Linked DNA regions of Homo sapiens: regions 2 and 3 are each linked to region 1. The links come from fine-mapping of genetic effects on gene expression. A gene starts in region 1. Each other region holds a variant in brackets. All regions are shown on one strand. Distances are between the middles of the regions. Region 1 holds the start of INPP5F (inositol polyphosphate-5-phosphatase F). Region 2 has its middle 36 kb from the start of INPP5F. Region 3 has its middle 26 kb from the start of INPP5F.

Region 1 (4,238 bases):
TTTCTTCACATCTGGCAATGTAATTCATAAAACAATAATGAAATAATTTGCAGGATACAATGTCTTCATAGGATTTTCTCATTCTCATTTTTGCTAAGTCAACACATGGCTGAATTAAACAATCAATCTGAAACCGATGGTTCCACTGAAGCTTCTTATAGCTTCATTACCTTCTTTCTCCAAATCACATCACAAAGATTTGATAGAGTAACCACCTCCCTCGACCTTTATGTTGAGGTGTCTGGACAGCACAGAGGCATGGTACTTAGAAAAGATTCCAGGACGCTTTGTTATCATTGGACTTTCTGTGCTATGGAAATTCAACACTGTGGGCTGGAATAACTAGTCATGTGGAACTCCTTCCTGCTTTTGTACCCTCTCACTTTTACTTGAGCAGAAGGTTAAAAGTATTGCTTTCTGAGAAGTCCCATTCGGTCACTCCTCTCTCTCGCAAGAGAGACAGCTGTTCTCCCTTTTCTTTTGCCTATAAACTTCCGCTCCTAAACTAAAAAAAAAAAAAAAAAAAGTATTGCCTTATTTTTCTCATCTCCTACTTCTTGTCTTTTTCTCTTGTTTCCGATTCAGGCATTAGAGAAGGCAAGGAGTTAGGAGTAGGAAGACTCAATGATTTATAGAACTGGGGGTGTCATAAAAGGTCATTAGTTCAACCACCATCTGAGACCAAGAGACTTCCCCAAGATCACACAGCTAGATAGTCCTCGAACTGGCCCCGGAAGTGGGGGCCTCATTCTCCAGACCCATTCTGTTCAGGATATCAACTGGTTTTTCAAGACAGACTGAGCTCAAGGATGTTTGGGGGAGACTCCTCCTTCCCCGAGAGGGTCTCCATTCATCTTATCCTCGCCAAACGATATTCCTTCCGCTTGCTTCATTAACTGGCTCCATTTGTGAAGTCTTCTCCAAACCGCCCTGCTTAATTCGGGACACAGCAGCACCTGTACATTCCTCCCTTCCTCCTCGCTCTTTAGCCGCGTGCTGCTAATGCTTGTGTGTTTTCTATTGTTACATGCTTTCCCTCGTTGATGTGCATTTATTGAATGCCTCCTGTTGTCAAACTTCTAATAGGGAATACGAAAACAGAAGACGCCTCCGCTTGGCTGTGGGCCTGGCTGGGGATGAACCCCTGTAGCCAGGCCCCGGGGTCTCGCCTGGTTTCGGTACGGGCAGGCAGCGCAGGCCCGCGGGGAACGTACCCCGCACCGCTCCGGGAGAGCGGGTGTGGGGTTGGATTCAGGTCTCGGCCTGGCGAAGCGTGAGCGCCTCCCTGCACGGAGGGGAGGCCCCAGCGGTGGGCGCCTGTCCCCAAGGCCGCGCGGAGGGAGGCGGTCAGTCCAGACCGACTCGGCCGAGCTCCCGAGCTGCCACCGGTGACCACGACAGGAAGGCTGGCGCGCCGGGGGAGGGGCCTGGGCAAGAGCGGGAGGGGCGGGCGGAAGGACGAGAGGGAGGAGGAAAGACCCGCGGGGAGGAGCTGGGAGGAGACACCCGGGAGAAGGCGGAGGAAAGGGCAGGAAGCGGGAGGGAGCTGAAAGGAGGAGGAGGCTGAGGGGCGGAGCCGGGCGCTCGGGGAGAGTAGCCAGCAGAGGGGGTGGAGCCGGGCCTGGGGCGGAGCCAGGGAAGGGGAGGAGCGGGGGGGAGAGGCCTCTACGGCCGCCGCTGCCGCCGCCGCTGCCGGGGCGCGTTCTCCTCCTACCGGTCGGGTGCCCCGGGGCGTTCCCTCTGCCGCTGCTTCTCGGCGCGGTTCCTACCCGGCCGCTCCCCGAGGCGCGGGCTCTGGCGGCCTCGACCGACTAGGACGCCCCGTGCGCCGCCCGCGGGCCGCCGCCTCCCTGGGCGCGCGGGGCCAGCATGGAGCTCTTCCAAGCCAAGGACCACTACATCCTGCAGCAGGGCGAGCGCGCGCTGTGGTGCAGCCGCCGCGACGGCGGCCTCCAGCTCCGACCCGGTGAGGCTGGCGGTGCGGGCGGGGGGCACCCCGGGCCAGGGCGGGGAGAGGAGGGGGCGCGGCCGGACCCCTCAGCCGGGCGGGAGGAGCCGCCTGCGGGCCTGGTGAGGCGGGGCGGGGCGGGCTGCGAGCGCGCGAGCTGTCATTATTCCCTGACTGGAAGGAGCCTGGCCTTTCTCCGAGACAGCGCCGAGCCCCTACCCCAGTGCGGAGCAGAAGGGGCTGGCGACCCTCGTCCTTCCCACCGCGTCACGCGGCCGCCCTTGGGGCTTGGGGCCCAGGCCGAGGGGAGGGGGTCCCCTCCGGCAGAAAGTTCCAGCAAGGTGCACCTGGCCGTAAAGGCCTCTTCCTCCTTGGAGTAGTTCTTACATGGCCTTCGCCAGAAGTTCTGGGTTCGAATTCCGATCTGGAGCGGTTGCGCCAGTTCCGTCTAGGGCTCTGCTGGACACTCACTCCCTGTTGCCATCCCGTGTGTTCTTGGTCCCTTATTATTAAAGGTGTGACTTTACTGTGGTTACCTCATAGGCACTCGGTTTAAAGCCTTTGTCTTTGACTTTAATACCACAGCACAATTAAATTGTATTGTAATGTATAATTTTGAGATTTTTGTGTGACTTGATGTTGTGCGACACAAAATGTATTGTGGGTCCATGTTTGGGTGTCATGTAAGCTGTTCGGAGAGGCTTAAGTCTGCAATTAGCTTGCTTTAGGAAAATGTGTGTGCAGTCGTGGTTTAAACAGAGCAGTCCCTGCCCTCAGAGCGCTGACAGTCCAGTTTCTTGTAAGATGGGGCTGGGTGGCACCTGCCCCTTTTGGCTTGCTAATCCTTTCCTCATATCACTCAGAGATTCTTCCACTTTAGGGAAAGCGAGAGGATAGAGTTCTTTAAGGAAGGAGCCAGAGCTTTTCAGACTTACTTGTAATTCTTATGTGCAGTCTAGACAGAAGGATTACATGATATGAATTGAAAAGGATAAAAGGTTCAGATGAGCTTTTCAGATCACAGCGTGGTATCACTTATAGGATGGTTTTTAAGGACAGGCCCTTTAACATATTATTTCCAATCCCCACAGCAACCTTACAGGACACGTGTGGGATCCTCTTTTTCAGGTGAGGAGAAAGGAGTGAGAGGTTATTAGTAACTCGTTCGGGGTCACAGCCTAGAGTTGAGACACTGACACAGGGCAGTTCTGTGACCTCCAGAACACTTTTGGGCAGGCCCCACTGCTTTCTTAGGAAGGCCTACTAGTTGCTTTGCCAGAGCAGTGAAGGATAACTTATTTTTTTCCTCAGGCTCTGTCTATATTTTCTTGCTATTACGTTGTATTTCCTCTTTTCAGAATGGAGGATAAACTCCTTGGCCCAGATAAAGTTCTTGATGATCTCGGGATAGAGTTATTATGGATAGGCTAATTTTGGCCAGTCTTCTGTCATTCTCTTCTCTGATTTGACCATTTGTCTGGCTTTCTCCCCTTCCCTCCTTTCACTCCCCCAAATTTGGGTAAGGCTTCAGTACAGCTTGAAGTAAAGCAGATTTCAAAATTCCTAGGTTGTCAAAAGAGTCAACTCCTTGGATTCTAAAAGCTTAGACTATTAGAACTGGATGGGACTTAAGATCGTCTCCAACTCATCTGACAACAAACTTTTCTACACCCCAGTTTCTTGAACTATAAAGGCTAACCTGCGCCTAGATTCTTGGATGAAGCCATGCAGTTTGGATTACTGTTTGTTCAAAGTCCATGTCAGAAGGCAAATTTAAAACTTTTTTGGGGGAGGAAAGTAGCTATAGCCTTTGCACTTGAGATTGGCATACTTTTTAGAATATAGCGGGCCACAGACCAAGTAGACCAAATGTCTGGAGGAAGGAAGAGGCCATGTTTCAGAAGTAACAGCCAGTTTTGATCTTAAGGTGTTCAGGATAGCCAGGGAATAAAGAATCCCATGCACTTGATTTTCCTATAGTTTATCCTGTCCAGGACTGAAGATCCTTTCTAACTAATGGCTATTTAAGAATGGCATTTTAATTGAATAAGTGCTTTTCAGATCTTTTTCTGTATATGGAATCATTTAAAATTCTCTTTATTTTATTGGACTTTTCCCCTGTGCTTTTATGGCAAGTTTTGCTGCTGTTTGTAGTGACAGCATTTAAAATCTTTCATTGTTTCCTACTGGTTATTTAGCTGAATAGATTACTAAGTCCTTTTCTTTTTTGAAAGGGCAGTATTATAAGCTCAAAAAAGCTTGTGGGCATCGTGGTTTTTACATTCGTGAC
Region 2 (4,238 bases), 36 kb before region 1:
GGCTTCTTTACTGCAACCTGGTTTATTAGCAAGGTCTTTATGACCTGTATCTTCTGCTGACCTCCTATCTCATCCCATGACTTAGATTGCCTAACCTTCTAGGAATGCAGCCCAGCAGGTCTCAGCCTTATTTTACGCAGCCCCTACTCAAGATGGAGTTACTTTGGTTCAAACGCCTCTGATAATTGGATTAGGGCAAGCTTTCGCAACCTCAGTGCTATTGACACTGATAAATTGACATTATCAGTGGACCATCCTATGCAATGTTTAGTATTCCTGGCTTTTAACCACTGGATGCCAGTAGCACCTCTCCTTCCCCAAATTCTGACAACCAAACTTTCTCCAGACATTGCCAAATGTCCCCTGGTGGGGAAAATCACCTGTGGTTGAAAACCACTGGATTAAGGGTGCCTGCCCAGACCCCAACTGCCTTCCAGAAGCAAAAATAAATCTTACTATCATCTAGGGCCTCAAATTATATCTGTAATTTTTCATACATGATATGCAGCACTTAATAAAGAACAAAGCTTTAAAATACATAACAAAGTTGACAGAACTAAAAAGAGAAATAGACAAATCCACAATCATAGTGGGAGATGTTAAGACACATTTCTGAGAAAATGATGGACTAAGCAGAAAAAAAAAATCAACAAGGTTAGGGTAACAGGGTAAACTACGGAGAGAAGTATCTGGAGGAAAAGAGAAAGGTATCAGGTCTGGGTGCGTGAAAGAGGGGTTGGCAGGAAGGGGGGTATTGAGCGCAGATGGAGAAATGGAGAGAAAAGGAGGGTCTTTGTGGGCCCCCTCTTTCTGGAGGCTTAATTCTATAAGACCTTTTCCGCATGAACGGTACAAGGGAACTGTGTCGTTTCCTTTGTTCCTTCATCCAGACTATACTGGCTGCTCTGTGAAATCTATCTGTACCTCCAGTCTGCCGGAGGCATGTGAACCAGAGCAACTTCACCTTGAATAGGAGCTGGGTAAAATGAGACTGAAACCTACTGCACTGCATTCCCAGAAGGTTAGGCATTCTAAGTCACACGATGAGATAGGAGGTCAGCACAAGATACAGGTCACAAAGACCTTGCTAATAAAACAGCCTGCAGTAAAGAAGCTGGCCAAAACCCACCAAAACCAAGATGGCAATGAGAGTGACCTCACTGCTACACTCCCGCCAGCACCATGACAGTTTACCAATGCCATGGCAACATCAGAAAGTTACCCTATTTGGTCTCAAAAGGGGAGGCATGAAGAATCCACCCCTTGTTTAGCATATAATCAAGAAATAACCATAAAAATGAGCAACCAGCAGCCCTTGGGGCTGCTCTGTCTTTGCAGTAGCTATTTTTTTTTTTTTTTTTTTTGAGATGGAGTCTTGCTCTGTCACCCAGGCTATAGTGTAGTGGCATGATCTTGGCTCACTGCAACCTCCGCCCCCCTGGGGTTCAGGCAATTCTCCTGTTTCAGCCTTCTGAGTAGCTGGGTCTACAGGCGCGCGCCACCACGCCCTGCTAATTTTTGTACTTTTAGTAGAGACAGGGTTTCACCATACTGGTCAGGCTGGTCTCGAACTCCTGATCT[C/T]AGGTGATCTGCCCATCTCAGCTTCCCAGAGTGCTGGGATTACAGACGTGAGCCACCATGCCCGGCCTTTGTTTTCTTTTCTTTTCTTTCTTTTTTTTTTTTTTTTTGAGACAGAGTCTCACTCTGTCACACAGGCTGGAGTGCAGTAGCGCGATCTCAGTTCACTGCAACCTCTGCCTCCTGGGTTCAAGCGATTCTCCTGCCTCAGCCTCCTGAGTAGCTGGGATTACAGGCGTGCGCCACCACACATGGTTAATTTTTGTATTTTTAGTAGAGATGGGGTTTCACCATGTTGGTCAGGCTGGTCTCGAACTCCTGACCTCATGATTCTCCCGCCTTGGCCTCCCAAAGTGCTGGGATTACAGGCGCCTGGCCACAGTAGCCATTCTTATATTCTTTACTGTCTTAATATACTTGCTTTCACTTTACTCTGCAGACTCACCCTGAATTATTTCTTGCGTGAGATCCAAGAATACTCTCTTGGGGACCCCTTTCATTGTGGACTCCGTAGCAGCCAGTGGGGTTTGGGTTGGCAAAGACTAGTGAGGCGGCCAAAAGGGTGGTAAGCACATTCTGATCAACTGGGAGAGTGTCTCCAGCAGAGCTGCAGCCCTCCACCCCTGCCATGGAGGTGCTACCAGGTGTCACTAAACTTAGAGAGTCCTATGGTCTGAGGCAGTTTCAAAATTGAGAGACAGTAAGACTGAATATTTAATTCCTGTCTCATCTCTCCTCACTGTATTTTAGCAAGAAGTACTCCAGGATACAGAAGAGGAGCCTGTCCTACCTGGATTACACAGGTATATTGATACCTACTATACGGCAGACATTATTCTAATTGTTGCTAAGAACAGAGAGTAGGCCAGGCACGGTGGCTCTTGCCTGTAATCCCGGCACTTTGGGAGGGCAAGTCGGGAGGGTTGCTTGAGCCTAGGAGACCAACCTGGGAAACGTGGTGCGACCTTGTCAGTGATCCTGAGGTGAGAGGATCACTTGAGCCCAGGAGTTCGAGGCTGCAGCAGTGAGCCATGATTGTGCCACTGCACTCCACAGCCTGGGTCATAGAGTGAGACCCTGACTCAAAAAAAAAAAAAAAGAAAAGAAAAAGAAACACAGTGAGTTTAAGACTGGAATATAAAGATGGGTAAAGCCTATCCATTGTCTTCAGGCCTAATAGGGGTAAGGGGGTTAGGGCAGTGAATCGAGTAAACCAGCAGTTTGAATACGGTATGCTGGGGCAACTCAGGACAGAGCACAACAGGCTAAGAAGATGAAGAGTAATCGGGTGCTGGAGGGGAGAGAGAGAGAGAGACAGCAGATAAGGGGAATCTAGTTAAGAGTCTGAAACGGGAAGAGGATCTTCTGGGGAGCAGGAGTATTGTGAACAAAAGCCTGCAAGTGTGAAAGCATGAAGTGCATTCAGGGAAAATTGTATCCCACAGGTATTACTGAATGCCTACTCTATACCTGGCACTGTGCTAGGAGTTCAATGTACCTCGACGAACAAGACTCAGTCCTTCTCCGCAAATTGGTCAGGGATCTTTAGTAGGGCAGATTGAAAAGGAATGGGGAGCCGTTCTACAGTGAGCTGTCTGGAGGAGCTGGGGCATAGAGTGTTTGCAAACAAGTAATGAGTAACGGCCAGGCGCGGTGGCTTTGGCTGGGTGCGGTGGCTCACGCCTGTAATCCCAGCACCTTGGGAGGCCGAGGCAGGCGGATCACGAGGTCAGGAGATTGAGACCATCCTGGCTAATGTGGTGAAACCCCGTCTCTACTAAAAATACAAAAAATTAGCCGGGCGTGGTGGTTGGCTCCTGTAGTCCCAGCTACTTGGGAGGCTAAGGCAGGAGAATGGCCTGAACCCGGGAGGCAGAGCTTGCAGTGAGCCGAGATCGTGCCACTGCACTCCAACCTGGGCAACAGAGTGAGACTCCATCTCAAAAAAATAAAAAATAAAAAAGAAGTAATGAGAAACATGCCTGTTAGGTTACGAGGGGCTGTTGTATGCCTTGACACTGAAGGTGAAGACAGCCAGAATATAACCAGCTCCACCTTTGAAGCTCTGTATTAGAGCTGGCTGCTGCTCAAGAGTCCCACCACAAGTGATCACACACAGCTGTCAATGCCTCCTGGAAGTGACTTAGCAAGTCTGGGAGGCATTTGAAGTGAAATATCAGGCATCCAACCCAAGATGCTAGCAGCCTGATTAGAAAGGCAGGGTTGATGAAGACAGGGCGGGAGTCGCTGTGGCTCCCCTCTTTCCAGGGAGGTAAGAAAGAGGCCTCTGAGAGGAGACCCACCCTGTCCTGGGGAGGCCGAGGGCCCAATGCATTGGTGCCAATGACATGGGGCTCACAGTCTCTGTTCAAAGATGATCCCACCATCCACCTCTTCTGAGACCTTGATTTTTCAGTTGTCCCAGCTCTCTTGTGTGTCCAACTTCTCCTCTTGATTTATCCCCAGCAACATTAATATATCTTTAAGTTAATAGGCTAGGCATGGTGGCTCACGCCTGGAATCCCAGCACTTTGGGAGGCTGAGGCAGGCGGATCACGAGGTCAGGAGTTCAAGACCAGCCTGACCAATGTGGTAAAATCCCATCTCTACTAAAAATACAAAAATTAGCTGGGCACGGTGGTGGGCATCCGTAGTCCCAG
Region 3 (4,238 bases), 26 kb before region 1:
AAGGTGTCAGCAGGGCCATGCTCCCTCTAAAGGCTCCAGGGAAGAATCCTTCCTGCCTCTTCCAGCTTCTGGTGGTCCCAGGTGTTCCTTGGCTTGTGGCAGCATCGCTGTAATCTCTGCCCCCATCTTCACGTGGCCTTCTTCTCTGTGTTCCTCTACGTCCTCTCCTTTCCTTATAATGACACTAGTCATTGGATTTAGGGTCCACCCTAAGTTCAGGATGAGTTCATCTCCAAATCCTTAACTAATTACGTCTGTAGGGATGCTGTTCCCATGTAAAGTTGCATTCTGAGGTTCTGGGTGGATATGAATTTTTGGGAGATCCTATTCGACCCACGACAACTACCATATGAACTCTAAGCTGCCTACATACAGCTGTTCAAGAAAGGAAAAAATAACTGTTTTCTCTGTTTATACCATTATTATTTGGGGTCTCTGAACCCATATCCCAACCAATAGAGTCATTTTAGGGGGCACGCCTGTGGAGCCTGCCAGTGACTGCTCTTGGGTGACTGCCTGCCCCACTCACAGCAGGGGCTGGAGGGCGGCAAGACCTTTCTCCAGTGACCATGTTATTGGGCCACAAGCACACACTTAACCCAAGCTAAAGCAGTAATACTTTCTTTTGAGGGGTTTGAGACTTTAGGGAATTAGCCTGAGAGACAGCCAATACCTGAACTTATTGGCCTCTTGAATGGAGGAAAAATTACTTTATGGATTATGGGATAGTGACCTTCTGTTTATCATGTGAAGAGAGAAGCAGAGAAAACTGATCTCTACATGAGAAAAAAAGAAACAGATGTTCCAAGAGGGGAAGAGATGTGATTCTGACAGGGAGTCTGAGTGGTTCTCATTCTTGGTTTTGGGGCTGACCCGAGGCTTGGCTGCATTTGTACTGACTGCTTAGCATGAGTCAGGGCCAAGTGCTTTACCTGCATTACCTGGTATTCGGTCCAAATAATATACCCTAGACCAGTCGTGGTGGCTCCTGCCTGTAATCCTGGCCCTTTGGGAGGCCAAGGTGGGCAGATCGCTTGAGCTCAGGAGTTTGAGACCAGCCTGGGCAACATGGTGAAACCCCATCTCTACAAAAAATACAAAAATTAGCTGAGCATGATGGCGTGTGTCTTTAGTCCCAGTTACTCGGGAAGCTGAGATGGGAGGATTGCTTGAGCCGGGAGGCAGAGTTTGCAGTGAGCCACGATCGTGCCTCTGCACTCCAGCCTAGACGACAGAGTGAGACCCTGTCTCAAAACAAAACAACGAAAACAAAAACAAAAACAAAAACCAATCTATCCTAGCTTCTGCAATGTTTCAGTGGCTTAACTCAACACGAGTTTATTTATTGGCTCACATGAAGTCCATAGTGGTCAGGCAGCCCCCTCCTAGCTTGTACCACTATCATCTGGAATAGTGGTCTATAAGGTTGCCGGAGTAGAGGAAGAAAGAGATAGAGGAGGTATAGTTCCTCTTCTTCTCTTTTTGAGAGTGCCTATTTATTTTATTCTATAATTATATAAAATATCTACACAATTTCAAAATCTAATCTACAAAGCAAGGTATATTCAAATAAGTCTAGCTTATATCCCTGTGTTCTCCAACCTGTTCCCTCTTTTCCACTAAAGTTAGCAATTTAAAATTTATATTTATTTTTCCTTGTAATACATAAGTAATAATATACCTAGATTTATCTCCCTCCTTACTCAAAACTATACACATTTTCCCTACCTTGCTTTTTTTTATGGTAAAATATGCATAACATGATGTTTACTATGTTAACTTTTTTTTTTTTTTTTTGAGACAGTGTCTCTCTCTCTCTCTCTGTCACCCAGGCTGAAGTGCAGTGGCGTGATCATGGCTCACTGCAAC[C/A]TTCACCTCCCTGGTTCAAGCAATTCTCCTGCCTCAGCTTCCCGAGTAGCTGGGACTACAGGCACGTGCCACAATGTCCAGCTAATTTTTGTATTTTTAGTACAGACAGGGTTTCACCATATTGGCCAGGCTGGTCTTGAACTCCTGACCTCAGGTGATCCACCCGCTTTGGCCTCCCAAAGTGCTGGGATAATAGGCATGAGCCACCGCGCCTGGCCGGATTCTTTCTTTCTAACTGGTAATATTCTTGTGCTGCTTTTCAAAATTAGAATTAGAATATTGGCATTAAAAGAACCCTGAATCCAGTGTTAAGTCGATCTTCTAATTTAACTTTCTCTAGACCACATATTTATTTCAGTCAACATTTATTAGACACAGTGCATTGAGCACTTAGGATGCATCAAGAACTGTGGGGACTGTGGGGACACAACATTGAATAAAATTTGCTTCTACTCTAATTAGTGAAAAACATCAGATTGTAATTACTTGTTTGACCTATGACCCAAATGTTTTATTATTAGATTGTGCTACTGACTGAAATCTATGAGTATACCGTGAGCATAGTTTTGAGTTGTAAAATTTCACTTCCTCTTTCTTTCTCCACACTTTTACTATTGGTAATACTGTATCAAAATTTCCCCTTTTCTTCTTTGTATTTCTCTTTTTCATAAAATTAAATAAGAATACCGCATTTCACAGATTTCATGAAATCATCTGCCATCTACTCAGAAAAATGACATCTCAAACCTTTTAAGCACCAGAATAACTAAATCCATACTTGCAGTGAGCCGAGATCACACCACTGCACTCCAGCCTGGGCAACAGAGACTGTGTCTCAAAAATAAAAATAAATAAATAAATCCATACTTGATGGCCCAGAGCCTAAGATTTGACATTAGTACGCAGCACAAGAGATCAGCAGGTATGGCAGGGATATGAAGATGTCTTATGTGAATGTGGCATTAGATCTAAAGAAGGAATTGGAGCTGTATTCAGGTAATCAGGACATTTGGGTTCCAGTGCCAGGTCCTCCCACAAATTAACTGGAATACTTTGGACAAATTCCCTAAACATTAGCTCTTCATCTGTAAAATGATGCTGCTAAACTAACTGAAAATCCCTTTTCATATTAAATTTCTACACTTTGATGATTCTAGAGAGAACCATAAGAAAGAGAGAGTGAAATAGCTGGGACAATTAGGAAACTGAAGAAGAGGGAAAAAATGGGGGCAAAGGACAATTCTAAGAACAAAGAAGGTGATAAAAATAATTCAGAACAGCAGAAAGTGAGATAGTAAAGTAAAATATGGTAAAAAGGAGAAAATAAAACATTAAATATTTTCTTGGAATTACAAAGATAAATCACATGAGATTTCATTTTTAAGCCCAAAGAGAAAGAAGAAATCTGGTTATTTGTATTTCTCTTGCATAAAGAGGCAATCTTCAGGAGTTATTTTGACGTGTCTCTCTATGGTTTCTCAATTCTAAAGAAAAAGAAAAGCCGGGCGCGATGGCTCACGCCTGTAATCCCAGCACTTTGGGAGGCTGAGGCGGGTGGATCACGAGGTCAGGAGTTTGAGACCAGCCTGGTCAACATGGTGAAACCCCGTCTCTACTAAAAATACAAAAAATTAGCCAGGTGTGGTGGCACATGCCTGTAATCCCAGCTACTCAGGAGGCTAAGGCAGAAGAATCACTTGAACCTGGGAGGTGGAGGTTGCAGTGAGCCAAGATCGAGCCACTGCACTCCAGCCTGGGCGACAGAGCTAGACTTCATCTCAAAAAAAAAAAAAAAAAGAAAAGAAAAGGAAAAAAAAAAGAGAGCTGATGTCTATCTCTTTGAGCTGTCAGATTGTTAAAACTAGCACATAGCAGTTATTGAGTGAACAAATGCTTTTGTAGGAGAAGGTAGAGAAAGAATATTGTGGGGTAAAAGGAGGTAATTGGGGTCAGGAATGAATCATTCAATTTCGTTGGATTGCTTCCAGACTCAGAAAGAATGCTTACATTTCATGATTTCATCCAACCTCCAAACAACGCCCGGGACAGATCAGGGGAATAATGCTTAGCTCTCAGCCACCTGACTTCCATGACAATGGGTCCCTGTTGTGGGGTGTTGTATGAGTGGCTTATTCTGATTCTGTTGGTCGGTCAGAAATTTGCTGAGGTGCAGAGGCAGCACTGCACAAACGGAAAACGGTAGCTCCTGAACAAACCGCTGCTTGGTGCAAAAGAAAGGAAGGAAGCTTCTGTCCCTGGCCTTTCTCATCCCATCCTCTACTCCTTTCACCTGTCCTAGTTGTGTTGCTCTTGGGGTCAGAAGTAGGGTGCATATGCCTGTATCTGTAGTTTACCCTTTACCCTCTTAG

Evidence for each region. PIP is the estimated chance that this variant, and not a neighbour inherited with it, causes the effect.
Region 2: its variant is the best candidate, but not a certain one, in a credible set for the expression of INPP5F in testis (GTEx, PIP 0.52).
Region 3: its variant is the best candidate, but not a certain one, in a credible set for the expression of INPP5F in whole blood (INTERVAL, PIP 0.69).

What each region holds. Positions count from the first base shown.
Region 1 is chr10:119,724,394-119,728,631 of GRCh38, forward strand. It overlaps INPP5F (inositol polyphosphate-5-phosphatase F), which reads left to right and starts at 1,657. Exons shown (of 20, transcript NM_014937.4): 1 at 1,657-1,966. The coding sequence starts at 1,870. RefSeq lists an enhancer at 656-705 and a silencer at 1,316-2,085.
Region 2 is chr10:119,688,233-119,692,470 of GRCh38, forward strand. No RefSeq gene overlaps it. Among named protein-coding and RNA genes, the nearest start is that of INPP5F, 36 kb to the right of the region's middle. RefSeq lists enhancers at 1-277, 3,351-3,850. The variant C/T (reference allele first, on the strand shown) is at 1,582.
Region 3 is chr10:119,698,136-119,702,373 of GRCh38, forward strand. No RefSeq gene overlaps it. Among named protein-coding and RNA genes, the nearest start is that of INPP5F, 26 kb to the right of the region's middle. The variant C/A (reference allele first, on the strand shown) is at 1,870.